Linked DNA regions of Homo sapiens: region 1 is linked to region 2. Evidence: fine-mapped QTL for protein levels in blood plasma. A gene starts in region 2. The other region holds a variant in brackets. All regions are shown on one strand. Distances are between the middles of the regions.

Region 1 (12,053 bases), 140 kb before region 2:
GCCCAGGCTACAATCCCTAATTACCGTTCCTCCAGGTTGTCAGTGCAAAATCTTAATTATCCCCGTGGACTCTGGCACTGCGTAGGTTAAGATAGGACATAGAAGAAGGGTCCCACCTGTGGTGACCTCCTTAACTCCCTTGCCAGATATGTCTACACTGCAGAGGAAATCCTGCTGGGCCCCAGCCAGCTCCTTTTCTGCTGTATTCTCTAAGGACAGTGGCCAGGAAGGGCCTCCTGTCCCACCTCCCAGGAACATATCAGCCAGCTCAGTGCACACAAAGAAAGCCACAGCCCTTTTCCCTTGGGAGGCAAACAGTGATTTGACTCTGACCTGATTTCCTACCCAGATCACATAAAATGGCTGGAAGGTGTGAGGTGAGGCAGAGCAAATCAGCCCACTGCATTTTGAATGTTGTGATGTAGGAAGTGCACATCTCGAGGCTTAGAAATAAGGTGCAAGTTGGAAAACAGATCAGTCCGCTACTTTGAAGTTGTGTCTGTTAGAACAGAGGCCCTGAGTATTAATCACTTTCCATCTACAGTACGAAATGACGTGCAGTCTTACTTCCCTGGCCTCTTTAAGACTTGTTTACTTATCTGTCAAATGGGAGATAATAATAGTACCCACCAAATAAGATCATTTGGGAAATTAAATGGCATGATGAAAGGACATATAACAAGTGCCCAGTAAGTTGTAGCTATGATTATGATGTTATTCACTCTCAAATATGGTTCTGGCCGTTCACATTCACATACACATTTAGAGAACAATATCTGAACTACATTTTGGTAAAGGGCTTTAATTGTTGGTGCAGGATGCAGTATAAACACCTGCCAAAAAGATTTAAGACTTTCTTTGCAGAAAGTACCCCTGTGTTCAAATACGCAATCATTCATTTGTCATTTGGTTTGCTCCATGGACATTTATAGAGCACTTAGACATGCCAGATGCTGTGTTGGGTGTGTGTGGCTCCACCTAGCAGGACCTGTTTCTTTCTCCACTGTGTCTCCGTTTTCTTAAGTAAAATGGATACAAGAATAACTTCTATTACATGACATGCTAAAAAGTGTTGAGAGATAATGGTCAAATTAAGCAAACTGTGGAATCATATTCTTGGTATTTCTGGCTTTCTGGTACTACTCAGGGGCAGATGTACATGGGCATTCCATTTCCTTGCCCATTACACTTACGTAGTACCCTCATCACTATAGGTAATTTTTTTCAGGAAAGCGTGCACCCTGTTTTGGCTTGCTCAACAGCAATGTTAGATATCTCAGAAGTGGTTTAATCCTTCCAGCACCAAATGGTCCAAATTGACTTAGCATGCTTTGCTGCAGTGGTTGACATGTGCTCTTTTGACAGCCACTGTCTGGTGGACTTATTATACTTATACACATCAAAGATGGAAAAGGCATGTGACTCAGCTGCATGAGCTCAGGGACCTGATCATGCTGCATGAGCTTCTGTATCAGTCAGAGCAGCTCCTTCTGATGGGGAGCCTAAGAGTGGACAGTCCTTTTTAGCATCAATCCTGGCTACTCAGTGCTTATGGTTCTGTCCCTCAGGCTTTTGTCATTGCGATCACCTCCGACTTTATCCCCCGCCTGGTGTACCAGTACTCCTACAGTCACAATGGGACTCTGCACGGCTTTGTCAACCACACCCTCTCCTTTTTCAACGTCAGCCAGCTGAAGGAGGGGACGCAGCCAGAAAACTCACAGTTTGACCAGGAGGTTCAGTTCTGCAGGTAAAGTAATCTTCAGGAGAAGGGCAGCAGAGGACCAGAAGCAATAGATCCAAATAATTACGGGGACGACCTAGAATTACAACCCTGCACAACATGATGATGTTTTGGACAACAGCAGACCACATATATGGCGATTGTCCCGTAAGATTATAATACCATATTTTTACCATACATCTTCTGTATTTAGATATATTTAGGTACACAAATACTTACCACTATATTACTGCCTACAGTATTCAGTACAGTAATATGCCGTACAAGTTTGTAGCCTGGGAGCAATAGACTATACTTTATAGCCTAGGTGTGACGTAGGCTATATAGCATCTAGATTTGTATAAGCACGTTCTGTGATGTTTGCAAAGTCACCTAATGATGCATGTCTCAGAACATATCCCCATCGTTAAGCAACACACGACTGTACATCATTCTCCTTTCCCTCTGTCTCCTGCTCTCTCTGCAGTTGTTATAAATCAATTGTTATAAATCAGCTTTGATGACTCAAAAAATATTTATGGACTGCCTTTTTCTAGACACTATGGAGCAGACAAAGAGCCTTGTCCTCACCATCAAGGGGGCTATGGTCTGGTTGAGAAGAAAATAAGCAGAACAGATAGGAAATAGCAGGTTATTTGGTGAGCTTATGTATGGACCATGAGCATTGTGGGTGCTCAGAGGAGAGGGAGATTACTTGAGGGACTAGAATGGAAAGGGTGGGCCTCCTGGAGGGGCAGCTAGGTGTTGTAAGAGAGAAAAGAAAAACATTCTAGGTGGGGAGTCGTCATGGGCAAAGTCATGGGGTGGGGACAAATGTGGGCTGTTGGATAAAGACTTGGTGCTAGGTGATATGGTTAGCAAGGAGACACAGTAAAGGGATTAATAAAGGAAATACAGTAAATGTAGAAACTCCTACACCAGCATAAGCCAAAAGGTTGTTGAATTTGAAGAGATGGGATAAAGTACATAATGGGAAGTCCTGAAATCTAACGGGAATTAGAATGTGATGCAATAGGAAGACACTGGACTTTTTTAGTGTCAGGGAATGATAGGATAAAGGGAAGGTTTAGAGAAATTGATCTGTTCTCAGTGAGGACAATGGGCTAGAGTTGGTAGGACCCAGGGAGCGCAGCTGGGCTGCTGCATCATTTAGACATGAACTGTGCTGGGCATAAACCAGGGTGGCGGGAGGAATTAAGAGGAGAGGAGAAGATGAGCTATTTCACATGAAATATTGCAGAGTTGGTGACAGTAGACATAGGAGAGTGGCTGAGCTAGGATTATCTCCAAAACTTGGACTGAAGTCAGAGGACTGGGATGTGGTTACATTGATAGGGAGAGGGAATATGCTGAGAGAGTCTAATTTTATGCTACATATGATGAATTTGATTTCAATCATGTTACATTTAAAACGATGTTAAGAAATCCAAGAGGTCATTTTCACCCAACTCCTTGACACACTAAGCTGGACTTCTGGAGACGTCCAACTTAGAGTCCTGATTGAAGGCCATCAGCACTGGGGTCACTGAAGCCAAGAAATGGAAAACTCTCCACTATTTACCCAAGAAGGGCAAATGAAGAGAATAAGAGCAGAGGGGAATAATTTATTCAACCCATTTGTACCCTGGTTAAAAGATAGTCCCAATAAAGCACTTGACCAAAGATCCTACCTCATATATATAAATCAGAATAGTTAATTACACCAATAACAAAAACCTAAGAGAAGGTATTGTGGGACCAACATAGGGCTTTCTTAGACCATCCCCAATAATATTTGATGTAAAAGCTGTGTTTTCAGTTGTGTTGGCAGCAGTGATGACCCTGGGCATGTCTGCCATGCTTGGTGCCCAAGGCCAGCCTTTCGTAAGACAGCCACATAGGTTCAGATTTGTGGTCTGAGACCATGAACGAGAGAACACCAATTGGTTTTCCCAACCTGGGTGGCTGAGTTAAACAACTGTACCAATCTATGGTTTAAATAGAAGGGTATTCCAGTTCCAGGAACAACAACTTCAGGGTTCCACTGTCGTCAACCAAGAAAAGATAAAAAATGAGGAACCAGACACAAGAATTGATGAATAAATTTACTCATAAGTGTCAATTTATATTAGCCTAGATGTTTCAGGATTTTTCGCATCTGGGCCTATAAAGAGTCTGACTCTCATACTAAAATCACATTGCAGGCAGATTTGCTGCCAGGCTATGCACTGCCTGGGGGCCCCTCTGCATGGCTGACATGCTAGACTGTCTGTCCATGGTGCTGGACTTGGGTCTGCAGACCCCAGCGACATAGTTCCACAGCACAGAGGGTCTGGACCAGCTCGAGGCCTTTCCAGTAGCATCTAGGTCTTCTCAAAGCAGGGTCTAAAGCTCACATCTCTCTAAGAGCGCAGGTCTCCACCTCCATGTCCAATGGGAGGCAGCACCAGTGTGACTTGTCGTGTGGGAAAGCCAGGCTCACATCGTCTGTTTCTTTAGTTGCTCTAGAAGCACTTGTCCTCAGAGCACAAGGGTCTCTGATCTTGCCCTTGACCATTGGATTTTCCACTAACACCTATGAATATGCTTTTCAGGTATATCACTGGTGAAACAGGCTTAAATCAATAGGAATTTTAATGGTCCCTATGGGAAGTTGAAGGTAGATCTAATCTTAGGCAAGTTTTCATTCAATCCAGTCTGCCCAAATCCAGTCTCTGCCCACCTCCCAGTTCCACTGCAGTCAATGTTGACTGTGTTTTTAAGTTCCGTATGATTGCCAGGAACTGTGGTGAGAAATAAGGCAAATGGGTGCTACTCAGCCAAAACAACCAATGCCCAGGACACCAGGTATTGTGAATATGTGTGGATCAGATTGAGCTTTCTTGTATCTGCCTTCAGAGTCACTGGATTTTCCGGCCAGCTATAAGGCTCTGATAGTTGTCTCCCCATTATTCCCATGCAAGTAGATAAGATCATGGCTTGTTTGTGGCCCGTTTTAGAAAAAAATCTGACACCGAGTGGCAGAATTATCAGTGGGCACATGCATAGAAAGTGCACTTTCATTCTATATTTCTGCCAAAAAAATTTATTTGCAGAAAATAAATCATCCCAAGATCAAGCTGAAGTGACTTTGAAGCATCCATCATTTTTCCTTCCTCTCTCAGTACCAGTGAGGATTACAGATTCATTAGGCAAATATTTTTGAGACCCTACTAAAGGCTTGGCATTGGTTGTATAATAGGGAGCGAGATATAGTGCATCCCTCAAGAACTCTAGATGGAGCAGACAATAAGTAAACAAGGAATTAAAATTAAAATACAGCTTTAATGATTGACAATAGGGCAACAGCAGAGAGCTAAGGGATCCCTAAGGAGGGAGGCCCTGCACCTAACACAGACTTAAGTGTTTAGGGGATTTTCAAGGGAGATGAAACCTGAAGAATGAACAGTACAAGAATGGCCATGGAGACAATCACATTGAAACTCCTCACTCATGTGGCCATGTCAGCCTGGCTGGTAAGTGGGGTGGGGAGGGTGGTAGGTCATGGGGCAGCAAGGGGTGTGTCAGGTAGTGATGGAGGTTCCGAGAGAACACTGTATTCCAGGGAGACAGGCTCAGGTGAGAGGGGTAAGCTATGAGAGAGGAGGCTGAAAGAAAAAAACAAACTCCATATTAAGGAGAGGATGCTGGTCCTGTTGAGGTGCGTGGAGTCTCTCTTAGGGCCACAGGGTACCACTGTAGGGGTTTCAGAGGGCAGTGATGAGATCAAGCTTTTTATTGGTGTTACATCTCTGCCTACAGTGTGAAGACTATTGGGTTACACTGAGGGTTATGTTTAACATAAAGAGATGCCCTACTGTGAAATATAGGTAGATGTTCAGAAAATAAGGTCAGCATGTGATCTAGACATAATATGTCAAATAGGTGTGCTCTGGGGGCTGCGTTTCCTAGATTGATAAGGGTTGTTGATGGAAATCTCTGCCTCATATGAGTCCTATCCACTGCCTGCTGTGTGAACTTGACTGGGTCACTCAATTCTCTGGAGATTTAGAAAGCAGAGGCATAACCTCTATGGATGTCTTTCTAAGTCAGGAATTGAGATCCTTGAGATAATTCCGTATACATATATGTGTACATGGAAGAGAGAGAGAGAGAGAGAAGAAAGAGAGAGGGGAGGAGGAGGAGAAGGGACTATGATAGAGAAGTATTTTGAGAAACAGAGATAACTCTTCAGCTAGTCCTAGAGCCAGTTAAAACTGCTTCCGTGGTGGGAAACAAGGTTTGCCATGATTTTCTGGCAAATAGCGTTGGGAACTTGTTGACCCTTCTTATTCTTAGCTTTCAGTGACCTCTGGAGATAAATGTGGTCAAATAAAACTGAGGTCTCCGACTCCAACCCAGCCTCGCCAGGGATAGAGGTATCTTAAAAATAGCAATAAAAGTTAGCACAAGTCTCCGGCTGCCCGTTTGAGATGCATTCCCAGCATTTTGGAGCGATGCTTGCCTCTGTCATCTGACTGCTCTGGCAGGGCTGCTCCGTAAACAGTCCCGTGACATCAATCTGCAGGCATGATTAGCAGCATTTGACAGGGTCGAAGGGCCGCCACGTCCTGGAGGACGGATGTAGGCTTGACTTCCCAGCTCAGCTGGAAGGGAGCATAGATATCTTGTCTCAGAGCTCGAAGAGCCTACCTGGGCATTGTCAACCCAGCGGGTCTGCTTGGAGGTGTTTGTTGAGCATCCAGCAGCAGCTTCTGTGGATGGCTTCTGCCAGGTTTTCCTGCAGGTCCTAAGGGCTTGCACACCCCGTATCCTGACAAAAGTCTTTGAAGAGGGGTGCTCCCTTCCAGCCCATGGCTGCCTCCCATCTGCTTCCCACCGAAACCAGAGGCTGTTAGCTTTTCTGGGTGCCACATTTCCTG[A/T]TTCTTATCAACCACTGGATTGACATGCTACTCATTAGTTCCTAATTGCCTGTACTGTTTTCCTTTGTTAAGGGTCAATTCCAGGAGGCAGTTTTAAGTAGCTCAGATGGTATGAAAATATTGTATGTAGTTGTGTTCAGCATTAACATGACATTAATTTCCACTGGGGCTACTAAAATGTTTTTTACATGCCACTATTTGGAGTTGAGAAATGCATTTACTAGCTGATTCATTACATAACAAAAGCTCATTAAAAAGCTGTTACTGATCGTTGACTTCAGCACTGTCCCTGCCCACAGTGATTTTGTGTTGTGATGAATTGTGGCAGATGTCACTGTCACTAGTCACCCTGCAAGTGAGGACAGGATGAGGACATCTGAGCCCTGAGTCTCTCTCCTCTCTGTACCTCAGTTTTTTCATCTGTAAAAATGGAGACTTTGGAATAAAAAATCTTCAAAGATTCTTTTCTTTTTTTTTTTAAACTTCAGGTTTAATGACATGTCATTTATTAATCTAGTTCTACAAAAATTCTAAACATTACAGGTAACCACTCCACCTCTGTTTTGCCTCCACCCTAACCCCTGCCCAACCCCAGGCATCCTTCCAACAGTAATAGGGTGATACTTACGGGTGAATGTTCTCTAGGCATTTTTCTATGCATTAACATAGTATTAACTTGTAGGACTTTTAAGGTATTGTTTCATGGGTTTGTTTTATAATGAAATATATTTTGAGTTAATGGAAATCTTATTTAAGTCATGTACAAACTCAATTCAATCAATGTGAGTTTTCACAAAGTTAGAACAATCTAGATAAAATATTAACATAATTTTAAAGCTAAAACATAATGTTGATTTCTGTATCACTTTCATTTATTATATGAGTCTGTTCAAATTAACATAATTTTGCTCAGGAAAGCTTACTATAAAAATGTACTTGAATCAACTGTGTATTGCCATTAATTACATTCATCTTTTACCATTTTGAACTTTTTAATTGTAAAAGTAATTAATTTCATAGACACATATTGTGTATGTATATAAGAAGAAAAGTGTCACTTCTCAGCCCCCACCCCAGCTGTTCTATCCCAGAAGAAACTGTTGTGTTCATTTTCTGCAAAAGCTCCGGAAATCATATTCACCTAGATTGTCTTATTTAATTCTCACAGTGTCTTTCTTTAAAATGCAAGGTATACACACAAGCAGACACACACGCACACACATCTATTATTCACTCCTGGCTGGGATTGAGACAGCTCCTCTATGCTCAGCGCTGGGATACACATTTTGGGAGTTCCACTCTGTAGATCAGGGACCTAGGTTCGGAAATGGGGAATGACTTCCTCGGTCTCTTACAGGTAGTAAGTGGCGTAGCTGCTCCAGGTGCAGACTAGCTTTTTAGACAGGCTAGTTGTCTCATTATTGGAAGTCTCTCCTTATTAGAAAACTCAGGGGAACTCTCAAAATTTATGTTATTTAAGCCTCAAGGAAAATGAAGGAGGACTGGAGGGGTGAGGGTGAGATCCAGGAACATCCCTAAAATAATATGCTGGGGATAAAACTCTGCTTCTCTTTGGGGGCACGGCTGGCAGCTGCAGGAGTCTGACCAGTTGTGGGGGCTCACCCAGTGCTGGGGAACTCAGTGGGACTTTGGGAGGCCCGAGCTCCCCAAGCCATGGGAACGGGTCTGTTGTGGAGCTGTCTGGCAGCCTCCACCCACCAGCCAGCACTTGCCCATTTCATGCTATTTACCTGGACAGAGGTCCTGAGAGAAGCCCTGTATGGCTGTGCCCTTGGCTGACTCCTGATTTGCACTAAAACTTGCAGCATTTAGTGCTTACATGTTCAAAAATCCTTCTGGAAAGCTAGGAGGAACTGGAAGCCGTGATCTACATGCTCTGTCCTCTTTTAACAGAAAAGGTGTATTCCATAAGTAACCTCCAGTAAAAAGAGAAAGAATAGTTGCTATTTATTGGGTTCCTCTGATGGGCCAGATAGTGTGCGGAGCACTCGGCGTTGACCCTCCGTCTTCAGAACAACTCTGTGATGGAAAGTTCAGGCCCACTTTATAGATGAGAAAGCTGGGCATCAGAAGGTTAGGTAACTTGCAAGAGGACAGAGAACGACAGTGCTGGACAGGGCTTTCAACCCCTCACCTGCTACCTCCAAAGCACGAACTGTCGCCAGTGCTAAGCACTGGGTTTAGAAACAAAACACGCAGCATCACGGTGGTGGAAATTATTCGGTTGATTAGCCACTCTCTTTGGTGAACACTTCTATTCTTAAAGCTAATTGTCTCTTTGTTTAATTAGTGTCTTCTAAGTTACTCAGTGAAACATTTGATAAGCCCGACTTCTTAGGGTAAAATTTAAAAACAATTGTGAAATCTGAACTTACTGTTGGAATGTAAACAACGAGTCATTTACCTGGTGGTAGGGGCTTAGGAGAATCAAGGTTTTTCAAACTATGAGTCATGGTTCATTAGTGAATTATGAAATCACTTTAGTGGGTCATGATCGGCATTTTGAAGAATAGGGTGGGTTGGCCAGCACGGGCGGATCAGGAGGTCAGGAGATCGAGACCATCTTGGCTAACACAGTGAAACCACGTCTCTACTAAAAATACAAAAAATTAGCCGGGTGTGGTGGCGGGCGCCTGTAGTCCCAGCTGAGGGACTGAGGCTGAGGCAGGAGAATGGCGTGAACCTGGGAGGCGGAGGTTGCAGTGAGCCGAGATCACGTTCCTGCACTCCAGCCTGGGCGACAGAGCGAGACTCCATCTCAAAAAAAAAAAAAAAAAAAAAGCATAGGGTGGGTTAGGATCAGATAGAGTAGAATAGGAAAATACTAGTGCATTCTAGTGCATTGCACACAACAAAGTATGTTTTGTGTAATTTTTATTGCAGTCTGTGTATGTGCATGAATGTAAAATGTATTTCTCACTGTAGGTCATAGTTTTTATAAAGTTAGCTTTGGAAAGAAATGTGAACAGATGAATATTAAATTGCTCACTGTTCTTTTCTGTGGCATGGCTTACCATCAGTTCCTAACGGAGCTACACTTAGCCTATCTGCATCGAGCTATTTTCAAGTAGAGTTTTCTGAACAGATCTCTGTGTTAGTCTTTCTGCAGATCCTCAATTAGATGGATATGCTTGTTAAACTTAAAACATGTTTTAGACACTGAGGGAGGACAAAGTGACATTTCCAAAAGCTGGGGTGAGTTAATAGCAGAGGTGGAACCAGAATTAGATTATTTATGGATTCTTTTCAGACTGGAAAAAAGAGGGGTGAGCAGTGGCTCGCATACTGAGGTCAGTGAGCAGCTGTTCCTGCAGAGATGCAGCTAGAGAACAAGAGAAATGGACTTTCATTGTAGCAGTAGGGATTGGGCTGAACCCAGGGAAGGATTTCCCCATGGTAAGGAGTGTGCGTGTGTGCACACATGTGAGTGTGTGTATGTGTGTGTGGCACCCTTCTCTGGAGGTCTCTAGAAGAGTGAGATAAATTGCTGTTGCCATGGCGTCCTGTCTGGGGGCGACGGGAGGATAGGTGAGTCTGAGGTTTTTCCCACCCCAAGATGTTCTTATTCATTTAGCCACGCTCTCCCTCTCTGCCATCAGCAAGGATAATCTGGAGCTGGCCATGTTTCTGTCCTCAGCTGAGGACGGTTATGATGAATCCCGTGGTGCTCTGCTGGGCTGCAGTTAGCTTTGCTTTTCATCCGGATGTCAAACCAAGCTTGCGGCAGCTGTGATCAGCTGTTGGGAGAGGGGGAGTCGGGCAGGGAGAGGGTAGCTCCTGGCCTCCTGCCAAGCCCTAGTCGAGTCCCCAGTGTCCACCTCTCAGTTGTGTCTTTCTGTTGCTGATTCTATCACTGCGCTCTTTTTTATCTTTGTGTGTGCGTCTCTTTTTCTCTTCCTCTTTTTCTCTTCTCTTCTTCTCTCATCTCTCTTTGGACAATGGAAAACAAACTAGCTTTTGCATGGACCTTTTAGAGCAGCTAATTCATTTATGGCAGGAGAAGGGACCAAAGAGCACCTACTTGTGAATGTCCCCTAAACTGCGGTCACTGGTAAGATGCCCTGTGATAATGGGAAGAAAGCCTAGATTCAGCCAGACTCGCATTCCTACCCTGACTCCACCTTTACTGGTCACGAGACTCTGGCCACACACTTCAACTTCTCCAAGCCTCAGTTTCCTCCTGTGTTATGCTGGGGTAACAATGCCTGCCTGAGGATGTTGTCGTGAAGATGAAATGTGAAACCTTCCAGAAAAACCCTTTGCTCAGGGATTGACCCGGGCAGAGTCCCTACCTGCCTTCCTTGGCAGCCACTATCATTGCTTGGTGGCCTGACACCACCCACCTCTTTCTCTGGCCCAGGATGAGCAAAGATTTGTTGAATTCCATGGAGAAAACTGTTCCAGGAAGGGTCATAGTTCTGGTACCAGCCCCTTGTCATTTTTCCAGGCTTAGAAAAATGTGAGTCTGAGAAAATGAGCTAGTATTCACATGAATCATTCTGGGATGGGGGTGAAAAGGCAAGGGTGAGGGAAAACCCAAGGCTTCTCTATGGGTCTGAGAAAGAGGCATGAAATCACGTCAGGCATTAACATTTTGTAGTTTAAACCATGCAGACAGATCAGGAAGATGATTAGCAAAACAGAATACTGATCAACTGTGATGCTTAATGACCCTCCCATCCCAAATTCACTCAGCCTCCAGCTTGGTCTGGATCAGCCTTCTTTTTGGTTCAAGAATGCAGCCATGAAGCAAGGCCAGCCCCTCTAGTGGCCGTAGTCCTGAAGCATCTGGAAGGGGAAGAAGCCCAAGACTGCCTGCTGGTGTCTGCATCTTCCCCAACCCCCCCGGCTGCAGAGCACCATTCAGGGTGTCTGGGTCTCCCCTACCCACACAGAGGCCACAGGCTAGTGGGAGGCCCAGGTGGACCCACTGGCCTGGACTACCCTCAGATGCCCTGGGCTCCTTTGGGAGTTGATGCCTGACACCAAAGTAAGCTTTGGGAGCTATTGGAGAGGGTAGTAGAAATGTCTTTTTAGGACATTTCTAGGCTGACATTGGCTTTCTTGGACTTTAGTCCTTTTTGGAAATTTGTTGGTTAGGCCATAGATTCCCCCCACTTCCCCCTGCTTCTCAAGTCAATGCCAAGGGCATGCGTGCCTGATGCTCCAGCCAGCCCTCGAGGTTTCACCCAGAGAATGACCACCCTTTTCTCCATGCGCTCCTGATCTTAACACCACATTTCTCTTTGGGCAGGTTTAAGGATTACCGAGAGCCGCCATGGGCCCCGAACCCTTATGAGTTTTCGAAACAGTACTGGTTTATTCTGTCCGCCCGTCTGGCTTTTGTCATAATCTTCCAGGTGAGTTGCTGGGATAGGGAATAGCCC
Region 2 (11,322 bases):
CAACAAGCAGAATCCTACTCCCCCATCCCATGCCCTCGGCCCTCGCCCCTCCTGTCCCTAACCTTCAACTCCCAAGCGTCCCAAATTTCATCAGGAGCATCCACCACTGAGTAAAGCTCTGGGGCAATGGGACAGTTCGGTCCGTCGTGGGACCTTTAAACTCCGACCTGGCTGGCTGCGCGGGTGCCCAGGTCTCCCGGCCTCCCACGCCACCGCTCAAAGTCCGAGAACAGGCTGGACGATACCGCAAGGAGATCCCCTGGGATGGCCGGGCCCGGGTGCCCGCCGCTCCCCGGAGGGGTCCCAGATGTGCGGGCTGCGTACGGAGCTCCAACATCTGCGCAAAGGCCCAGGGTGGGGTGGCCACCGGGTGGGCGCTGGCCAAGAGGAGCCCGGGGCGCGAGGTCTTTTCTGAAAAAACCCTTTCGGGGAACTCCAACGCAGGTACGCGGCGCGTGGCAGTGAGTCCCAACTCCCAAAACTGGAACGCGAGGTTCCGGGTCCTGAGCTGCGCGTCCCCTCCCCCCAGCCCACGCCCGGGCCAGAGTGGTGCTGGGGCGAGCTGAGAATCAGGCTCAGCGGCCGGCAGAGTGCAGGGCGTGTGCAGGGGAGCTGCCGCGGCACCTCCCCGCCCGGAGTTCTGTCTGCCACCCCCTTTTGTTATAGGATGCGCTAGGAGCTTTCTCGGAGGAGCAGGCGGGTCGGTTGGGAGTGGTGGGTGGTTGATTCTGTTGAATCTCTTTCCTGCTCTTTCGTCGTCCCCATTTCCCCTCTTCTGCCCCCACCCTTTCCAATCCAGGTCCCTTAAACCTGATCACTTTCCCAGATTGAGGGAAGCTTCTTGGGCAGCCGAGGGACAAGAGGGGAGGAGGTGGAGAAGGGTGTCCGTGTCTGTGTGTGTGTGTGTGTGTGTGTGTGTGTGTGTGTGTGTGTGTGTGTGTGTAGCGGGGTGGCTGCGGTTGCGCTTCGGCCTGAGCAGATCCCAGCGCAAACTTTGGGGAAGACACAAGCCCGGGAAAGTGAGTGAGCGCGGCGCGATGGGGGTGGGGCGGGATGCGGATCTGGGGCCCCCCGCACCAGTCCACTGGAAAATCCCTCCCCACGTGGACCCCCATCCCCAAACCTGCCCACCCAAGGTGCCCGCCGCCTCCCCTTACCGTGGCAAAAGTAACCATGGCATCCGTGTGGCCGTTTCCAGGGACGTCGACATGAAGAGAAAGGTGGACGCGAGCTCGGTCATTCAAAGTCTCCCCCACCCCGCCGCAGCCACTACCCAGCAGGGGAAAAAGGAGAGGAAGAAAGAAAGGAGAGAGAAGAAAGTAGTTGCGCCGGGCTGCGTCGCGGGGCGGTGCGCGGAGCTGTTCGGAAGGGAGAGGAGCTTCAACTCTGAGTCCCGTGAACAGAATCTGCGCGGTTATAACCAGCCAACCCGGCCAGATGGCTCCGCGCTCAGCGCCTTAACCCCTTCCGCGCCGCGCCGCCCTCCCCCGCCGGCCCGCGCCGCGCCGCGCGCGCCCGCGCCCCAGAGCCCCCCCCCCGCCCTCACTTCGGGACCCGTGGCGGGGAAGGGGTCATTTCTCCTGGCCCCTCTTGAAAAACAAAACCAAACCAAACAACAACAGCAACAAAAACTTCCAAATCTGTAGTATTCTTCAGTAACCCCCACCCTTGAGTTCCCTTTTAGAGATCCAGGAAAAAACGAAACGTTAAATGTATCGTAACAGGTTACATGTTAGTGTCTTCAGCCTTTCTTAGTGGTTCTTTTTCTTGAAATTTTTCTTTTTGATCTTTTTTCTTTCAAGATTTTCTTTACAAGGCATCAGGGCCTTTTCCTGCCTTTTTCCTCAGGAGGATCAGGTCTGAGGCGTAAACTCCTCCTCCAAACCTTAGACCCTTCCAGCTCCAGATCTCTCCCCACCCCCTACCAAGCCCACCCGCCACTCCTCCCCCCACCCCACAGCACGAACACGCCCAAGGACAATCGCTCCCCGGCGAACTCCCCGCTCCCGGGGACCCGCACCCAGGACGCTGTGTCGGCGGTCAAGGGAGGTCAAGGTAGAGGGGCGTGGGGGCGGGTGGTCCGAGGGACTAGGGAGGGGCTGTGTGTGCGCGCGCGTGTTTGCGGGAGCTTGAGTGTGGAAGGGAGAGGGAGATGGATCGCAGCCTCCCATTTCACCCATCCTCCAACTTCTAAACCCCTTCCTTCCAAACTAGGATGGGGCCCTGCAGCTAATCACTCGCCCAGCACCCACCAGTCTGCACGCGGGGACAGCGCGAGAAGCAGGAAAGGCGAGCAACAAACAAACCTGTTCGTGGCGCCCCGAAAGTAATGACGCTCACTTCCCCACCGGTGGATACATTCGAGGAGAGGATAGGGGGAGGGGGTCAAAATCTCTTATTTGGAGATAATTTTAGCTGCCCGTTAGACCTCACTTGCTCCGAGCCGTTCTCTCTAAATTTACCAAGTTAAGTCATCTTGATTTCGCCCATTTGCCATCGAGAGAAGGGGGAAAAATACCACTTAGTGATCAACGAGAAATCGAGAGCCCGGAAGCAGAGTTTTGCCCACTTGCCCGCTTCCCGAGTCCTTGCGTGGTGGACCTCCGCTCCAAGCCCCTCATCCCTTCCTCCCTGCCACTTCAGCCGCTCCTCACATCATCTCCTGCCAGGACCTTTTGACTCACGCGCGACTGGGAAGGGCAGCGAGTATCCCGTTTCCTCCCTGCCCTGTCGTTCGAGGTGTCTAATAAGCAAGCCGTTCCGCGTTTCGGTTAGGGCCCAGGTTCAAAAAATCCAAATACCTTGAAATTGCTTGAGAATTTGGTTAAACATCGGAACTGCACCCACCAGTTCAGGACCAACCGGCCGCAGAGAGTAGCTGGGGGGTTGGATGGGGAGGTGGGAAGGGAGGGGGGAGTCTGGGGGCTGCGTACTAGATAGATTGTACCTGCCTCATCATTATCCTGGCTGATGGGGGTTGCCACATCGAAAACCGCCAGAAGCGCCCACCGAGGCCCAGGGGCGTCACCTCCTGCGGTCCCTCGCAAGGGTAGGGTAGTCCTTCAGTGGCTCCCCTCGTGCCAAAATATCGACGTCTTCCTCAGGGCCAGAAGAGGCTGCCGAGTCGTTCCCTCCACCCAGCCACACAGCACCATGAAGGTTTGGATTGGGCGTGCTCTGTCGGGTTCTGCTTTTCTCCCTCTCATCTGGCCCGCCTCCCTGCCCTCCCCCACTTCCCGCACTTGCCCCCCTCCTCCAGCTTCTCGCCCTGGTCAAAGGAGGGATTCAGGCCCCAGTTTCAGATCCACTGGCAGAGTTCTTTTCTCAAGCTCCAGGTCCTCTGGGAACCTGAAGATTGCAAGGAAAGAGGTGGTTGGCTCCTGCTGCAGCAGGGAAGGGGTTAAATACATGTGCGGGCTGATCTGCAGGCAGCTCCCAGGTCCCTGGCAGTCTGGAGGGAGGAGGGGAAGGGGGGCAAACAAACTTGAAAAATCAGAAGAAAGGAAGGAGAAGAAAAGGCAGCAAGCAGTGCGTTTAGGACTTGGATTTGTTCTGCAGATGCCTTGCACTGGCTGGCCGCGTCATTTTGCCGGGACTTTCGGGGATCCCAGAGTTTGTCTTATTTCCAACTCCAAGGGGTTTTGTCCTAAGCTGGTGGGTCTGTCTTTGCTTGCAATCAACAGGCCTTGTAATATGAGAGGTGACACCTTAATCTTGCCAAATATGTGCTGTGTCTTTGTGGAGAGAGGGGAGGAGGGACTGAGGGAAGGAGGGAGGAAGAGGGAGAGACCCAGACAGGAGCAGAGGGTGAAAGATGCACTTTTTCTCAGAAGGATTGGTTTCCCAAAGGGAGAGCCTTAGCCCTTTTCTGAGTAGAAGACCTCTTTCAGACAGTCTACCTTGAGCACCGCCAACTGCCTTTTCCTTTACTGTTTTTCTTTAGACTTCAGACCTAAAGATTTCTTCCCTCTAAGACTAGGGACTGACCCCCCAGCTCGCTGTTGTGGCTTCCAAGGGAGTGGCAAGGTGCTGAATGAAGAAGGTGGGAAGAAAAAAAGAATTAGAAAGGTGTATTTTTAAGAAGACAGAATAAAAAGATCATTCTCTACTATGTAGAGCCATTTTTAAACTAGAATATTGTGACTTCTAAGTAAATCCGTGTTTCTAAATAGAGATTTTTCTTTTCTATAGAAATACCATTGGTATGGATAGCAAAAGCAAAGATCAGGACTGGAAAGTAAGCTGGCTGCGAGCTTGTGCCCTGTACATAGGCCTGGTTAAGGAAGCATCCAGGATGAGATCTTTTAGGATTCACTAGGTAGGTGCTCCTCTCCAAGTTGACTTCGTGGCCATGACTTTGGCTGCCCATCTGTCGACTGTATTTTTAGGTTGCTGAACTTTCTTCTTCTCCCTGCTGCATCTGAGAGTAAGGCCCTGACTCCTGGAAGTGATTTCTGAGAGCAGGAATCAGATCTTGTTTTTGAAAACCCCCTTTAAAACTCTCTCCTAAAGCAAATTTCCAGAGCGTGCCTTCTGGTTACCCTTATCTTTTGCAATAGCACCACTCTGTGGTTGGAACACTGAACAGAAACAAAACGGCAACGTGGGATTGAATTTTGCCTTTATCTTGTGAAAACAGCACTTATCTCCCTATGTTTGAGCTCAGTGGACTGAATGCTGGTGGTGGGGGCTCAGCGTGTGGTGAGGGAGGGGGTCTTGTGCAGTGGCAGTATGTGGTTAATTCATTGTGACATGTTGACCCAGGAAATGAGAGAAGTGGACCGAATGGCCTCCAAGGACCCTTTCCGTGTCAAAGACAAGCTTGTTTTTTTTCCCCATGATCGTGTAGCTAGCCTTGAATGTCTGTCCTCTTCCACTGCTTTTCTTTTTCTCTCTTTTGAGGTTACTAAAATAAACACCACACTTCTCACTGATCCTGAAGTATTTGCAAGTTGCATCTTCTGCTGCTGGAGGGCGCTGTGGGGAGGTCTCGCCCTACCCCCTCCATCCCCACCCCCATCCACCCAGACAGCTGCTAGAGCTGATGGAGTCTGGAAGTCTTCGTTTTTCAAACAATTAAAGTGAATGCAAAAGGTGTTTGCACAGGGACTGGGAGCTTAAGGGTCAGGAAAGGCGGCTTCATGCTACCTTTGTGCCTCCGCACTTGAAAGATTCCTGGCTGCCCACCCGTTTCTATATACTGGCAACAGCATTATTCACCAAGAGCTACAGGCTGTCAAGCCATATAGCAATTCCTCTCAGATGACCTGGAGTCACCTGTGAGACATTCTTCTTTTCTTTCAATTCGCATGCACTTGTCCACAGAAACTGAGTGGCTTGTTTATGTTTATTTAACAAGACCAGGTCTTCCCCCAAATTTCTGTCATTTTAAGAAAGCACAGCTTTGCTCTAAGGACTAGCATTGATCTCTCTACACAGAATACAGACATCAGAGATAAACTTCTATCAGCCCCTATGTCCCCCACTCTGCATTTAATAACTGAGGAAACTCAGAATAACAAAAAACAAAAACAAAAACATAATGACAGACCACGACCTAGAATTTACTGCCAGAGTAGATTTTGGTGCCTGAGAAAAGCAGGTTCCCCTCTACCTTCTCCACTCAGTAGCCATGTGCTTTTGTACAGGTTTCTTAACTTCTTAGAACCCATCTGCAATTGGTGAAGACAACACCAATCTCATAGAAGTAATATGAGGACCAAAGGAACTAATTAATTTAAAACATTCAACACAGTGCCTGGCACAATGTGAATGCCAGTCCCGATCTGCTAGTCCTTACACAGGAAACACTGTCACACCACTGGGGGAATGAGCTATCTTTAGAAAGAAGCTTGGCTCTGGAATGGCCTGTGTATTATTATTTGTATGCCACTACACATTTCATTAATGTAATTTTATGGATGTATATTTTCCCCTTTGGACAAATACAGAAATAAATCAGCAGAATGAAGTAGTGGACATATTTAGAATTTATATAGCTTCCCAACGTGGACCTCAATGTGCATGAAAGACAGAATTGAAGGATTTCAAAATCTCGTCTTATTCATTCTCTGCCTTTCACCCAGAACCACCTCATCATTTAAAAGGAAATTCCACCATATCCTTCAACTCTTAACAGATTGCCTGGTATATTATTGGTTTGTTGTTATTGCTAATTATGTTCTAGGGCTTACATTGAACAATATAATGAATTGCATTGAACAACGGTGAATCAACTTATTCTGTGACATGGCATACATATTCATAATTACGTTTCAAGAAATTACCCGTAATGATAGAGGGAAGGTATGTATTCCTACCACACAGGTGGATGTAGAAATCATAATAAAGTCTCCTATTTCACCAGTCATGACATGAATTCCTAACCACCCTATAAATTAACTTTATGCTGCACCAAACTCCACTCATAAAAAAATGACATTAAGGTTTCCTAGGTAACTAATGCATTTCCAAAGGGAATAGGTCTCAGGAGACAAAGAGGGCAGGGAAAAGGGTGGGGAGGGGAAGTGAAGAAAAGAGAAAAAAACATCCGATGAGACCCACGTGACATAAACAAAATATTTCACGGGGAAGAACCCATAAAGTTTTACTGCCGGGGTCTGACACAGATATGGCATAGCCATTAATTCCATCTTTGGATGATAAAACACTCGATAGACTATCCCTCTCATCACGTATGCTGGCATTTCATATTTCAGATCCAGTTCTACAAATCTTGAGAGGGATTTGACCCTTCCATTCATCTGCTAAGCTGCGTCCACTCAGCAGCCAGCTGACTCTTGTGCCCTCCACCAAATGTTGAGATGAATGTGAAAAACAGGGTTGATTTGCATGTTTCAGAATATACAGATGCTTTTGATCACTGTGGACTCTTAAAATTTTGGAGTGGATCTGTTAGCCTTAGCAGAAGGCTGGGGCCTGAGAATTGAATTATGGGAATGGAGGTTTGGTTTGCAACCCCTCAACTCAGTGGCATTTTCACTGCAGCTTTCTTCATTTGGAGGAGGGTCTGGATGCAAAAGAACATCTTGAATGCTTTGGGCGAAAATGGCAAGTTGTAGGTGGAGCTTAAGGCTGAAATTTACACTGTAGGAACAGAGAAATTCTGACACGCAATGCAATCCAGAGAATTATCCTGGGTTAGAGACAGGGAGATAGGGAAATGAGATCCAGAGTCTTGTCACTGTTTTGTGAGCTCAGGGAAGTAACTAAACTTTTCAGTTTCTTGGTTTTACCATGTGTAAAGGTACTTAACCTCATTTTCTTTCATGACTGTGAATATAAATAAGAAAACAAAGAACACACTAATGTGAATACAGTTAGAAATTTTGTATTATCTGATTTCTTCTATTTTCAGTAGCCCCAGAGTGACATCTGTGAGTGAAGTCTCCAACTGGTTACAAGACACAGCCAGGTGACTCCTATATTCAAAGTGTGGCAAGTTTCCCTGCGAGTCCCATGGCTGACGTGCTCCTACCCATTAGCACTGGGCAGTCAATGTAGAGTAAAGCCTGCCTTTTGCACTTTCCCTGACCTGCTGGAGAAAGGACACAGGACACAAATTCATGGCTAGAAAGCCAACTGGAAAACTAGAACTGTTTCCATCACACAATGTCTTCCATTGGGTTTGAAGTCATTTTAGGCTTTAACTCTGTAGGGGGACTTGGAGTGGCACTAGGGATTAGAAAAGCATTCTGGCCACACCCTGCATTTACCACTTTTACTGGTAGTAAGGGGCAGGGAATGTCTGGGAAGTAAATGCCTAGCAACTCAAGGTGCAGCCTTTGCAGGGATTTGAGACCAAGCAGGATGGGAACCTAGGTCTCCTTACTCCTAATTGAGACCCATCCAGGCTAGCCATGCCTAAGAGCAATGCGTGATGAAATGCCCCTCGAGTACTCACCTCCTATACACCTGCCCCCAGGGGATCCTGCAAATGTCACTTCATCCATCTTCCTGCCCCCAAGACCAGCCCTCACCTTCCACTGATAGGTACAAAGCAGGTGAGGTGGGGTGAGGGGCAAAGAAGGTTCATCCTAATCTCCTCGTGTTTCCTTGAAAATATTCCTCTCTCTACTCAGCAGTTCAGAAAAACTGAAGAGAGAGAATGAGTCACTGAGTTTTTACTTTAAAGACCCTCTGTCCAGTGTTCCCATGAAACATTAAAAAGAGGTATTAGTTCTTGGAGGGGCTAGAAAATATGAGTTCCAGTTAAAATAAGCTTACATACCACTACTATCTCCAACACACACAAACATATACAGACAGACACACCCCATGCAGCCAACCCATCGGATGATTTGCTATATTTACCAGTCAGTTCGCTGATGGTTCTGCTCCTGTCCCCACCCTGAGAGCAGGCTGTCGTCAGGCCCCAGTTCAGAATGCAAATAATGCTCAAAAAGCCAAGGGTGCCCATGCTGGGCTCTCGTCTGTTCAAACCACAAACTCCCAGCACAGGAGGGAGGGAACGTTAGCACGTGGAAACTTTCTCTACAGATAATAGCAATAGGTAACATTTATTGAGTACTTACTGAGCATTGGGTACTTAATAATCTTAGCATTATAGGCCAGGCACTGTTTTAAGCAGCATGTGCATGTGTGTGTATATGTATATATAAAGGTATCTATACACACACATGCAAACACATATGTGTGTGCATACAGATACATATACATATATATACATAAACCAGCACACACACACGTACATATAGATATCTATATCTATACCTATATCTGTATTATCCATGCCAGCATACATATCTATATCTGTAGCTATACAAGCATGCACACATGCACACATGCACTGGTTTTAGCACTAGACTAAGAGGCAGAAACCTGGTTCATGTCTGAGCTCCTCTGTGTGATCTTAGGCAAGTTACGTGTCTTCTCCTAGGCTTCAATTTATTAAATATGTCAAGTGGAAATAATAATGGCACCTACTTTGTAGGCTTTTTTGTAAGGACTCATGATATATAGGTAGGTGCTATTATTAGCTCCACTGTACAGATTAAGAAAATCGAGGTATAAAAAGCTTATATAACTTGGCCAAGGATACATAGGTAGTGAATGGGTGGCAAACAGAGGTTTGAACCCCAGCTGTCTGTCCCTCTGCACCATCTAACCTTGATAGAGTGACATTTTTCTCTTTATACATATGAAGAAACTGAGTCATAGGAGGAGATAAGCAACTTGCCTAAGATTACACAGAGGAGCTCAGACATGAGGCAGGTCTCTTGTTCCTTAGTCCAGTGCCAAGACCTGCAGTAGGAAGGTTGCAATACCCACAGAGCCAGCCCTCCTGGACCCCAGGTTGTCCTAGGGCATGAAACGAGGAAGGAAATGGAGACTGAAAGTAGGATAGGATCAGGTGAAACCATAGGCCTTTGTGTGCGCTAGGTGTGCACACCTTTCTAGGTGAATGTAGCTCACACCAGGACACTCACTTGGCACATGGAAGAAGAACTGATTCCAACACCCACCCATCTCTTCAGCTGGTTCCTTCATGCAGACATAACCTATGTAACTCTTTATGACAGCCTTGGGTACGAGAGCTCCCACAAGCAGACAAAGCCACTCAGTGCCAGGTTGTTAAGAAATTTGTCCAAGGGAACAGGCCATTGGCTTTGCTCCAGAGATTAAAAGGCCACTAATTAAAACTACCAGGGTTTGCAATATCAAGATATACAGGAAAAAAGTTGAGCCTTGAGTCTCTAATAAGTATTAACTCTGTAAATGCCTGCTCAGAAACTACAGGATGTTGGATTAGAACATTATGGGCAATTGATGTTCTGTTACCTATGTTTCATTTGAATCCCATCCAGGCACAAATGTCTACTCATGCAGATGTCTCTTCCTTTAACACAGACATAGACTTAACTGTCATTTAGACCTCAGACTCCAAAGGCAAGCCAGCGTTCAAAACCTGCCATTGAATGAGTTTTAAAATCTGGAGCTGCTGTCAAGATAGTATCTATGGGCATCGGATTTGCTTTTTTTTTTTGAGACGGAGTCTCTCTCTGCCGCCCCAGCAGGAGTGCAGTGGCGCGATCTCTGCTCACTGCAAGCTCCGCCTCCCGGGTTCACGCCATTCTCCTGCCTCAGCCTCCCCAGTAGCTGGGACTACAGGTGCCCACCACCAGGCCCGGCTAATTTTTTGTATTTTTAGTAGAGACGGGGTTTCACCGTGTTAGCCAGGATGGTCTCGATCTCCTGACCTCGTGATCCGCCCGCCTCAGACTCCCAAAGTGCTGGGATTACAGGCGGGAGCCACTGCGCCCAGCCCGGATTTGCATTTTACTACTCCAGCATATCTGCCTCTGCCTCCAAACAAAGATTAGAAAATTCCATTGGTCCTTTTCTCACTATATAAAATAATTTTCATCAGAAGTTTTCAACAATGAGTCTAAAAGCTAGAAATTAGTTCCATTGGAGTGAGTAGAGAGAATAACTTTACAAATGATGACAACTATTATCTTTCCACCTATGTTCATCTCCCCTAACTGACTGTATGGATACCTTAAAAATAAAGAAAATAAAAGAGGTGCACAAGAAAGTTGCAGATAACCTTCCAGACATAAGAAATTAATGAACTAAAAACAATGATTTTGCCCATGGTTAGCAAGGAGTCTGTGGTTAAGTTGAGAATGAAATCACAACTGGTAGGAGATGCCCAGTGTGAACTCTGGTCCACACCCCATATCTCAAGTTGGAAAACAGACTAGCTGCCAGGTAGACGCAATGAATGAATGACATGCGTTCAATGGGGGGTAACTCAGATTCCCCTAGTCAATCCCCTCATTTTACAGAGGAAGTAATTGTAACCCAGGAAAATGAGCACACCTGCCAGAGACCACACAGACAATCAGACTCATCAGTGAGAGTGTGGAGCCCACTCACCTGATTCCCAGGATGCTGCTGTTTGTCTACTGTGTTCATACAGCCCCCAAGAAATAGGCACATCTGCTTTCCTTCTGGAAGCGTTTCATTTCCCTCCAATTCCTCCCTTCCATTTCTTCTTTCCTCTCTTTCTTATTTCAGTGTATTTTAATATTTCCTTTATTTTGTTCCTGTTGTGAACAACTGGTCACACAAGGGAAAATTAACTTAAAATGAAGAAGGCAAGGTTTTAGTAGGAGCTAGAAAAGAATTTTAATCACAGGTGGGATTAAAAGACAGCTTTAAAAGTGTAATTACTACTTTCTTATTTCTGATGACATAAGGTTGGTCTTTTCTGAAGAAACAGGATTAAATAGATGAACTCTATCTCTTTTTCAATAATATTATTATAGATGACCT

Direction of the effects. Alleles are on the strand shown, and positions count from the first base shown. The strength of an association depends on the size of the effect and on how common the allele is.
In carriers of allele A in region 1, the plasma level of the protein whose gene starts at base 1,392 in region 2 tends to be lower than with T alone (moderate association).

The links. PIP is the posterior inclusion probability: the model's chance that the variant is causal. The UK Biobank Pharma Proteomics Project read protein levels with antibody pairs (Olink). The fine-mapping took linkage between variants from a reference panel, not from the people measured, so its PIPs are less certain.
Region 1: its variant is fine-mapped to the plasma level of the NTF3 protein (UK Biobank, PIP 0.91).

The regions. Positions count from the first base shown.
Region 1 is chr12:5,565,531-5,577,583 of GRCh38, reverse strand. It overlaps ANO2 (anoctamin 2), which reads left to right. Exons shown (of 25, transcript NM_001364791.2): 23 at 1,569-1,750; 24 at 11,921-12,026. Among named protein-coding and RNA genes, the nearest start is that of NTF3, 140 kb to the right of the region's middle. RefSeq lists an enhancer at 4,861-5,362. The variant A/T (reference allele first, on the strand shown) is at 6,646.
Region 2 is chr12:5,422,178-5,433,499 of GRCh38, reverse strand. NTF3 (neurotrophin 3) reads right to left here and starts at 1,392. Exons shown (of 2, transcript NM_001102654.2): 1 at 1,158-1,392. The coding sequence starts at 1,175. RefSeq lists an enhancer at 50-575.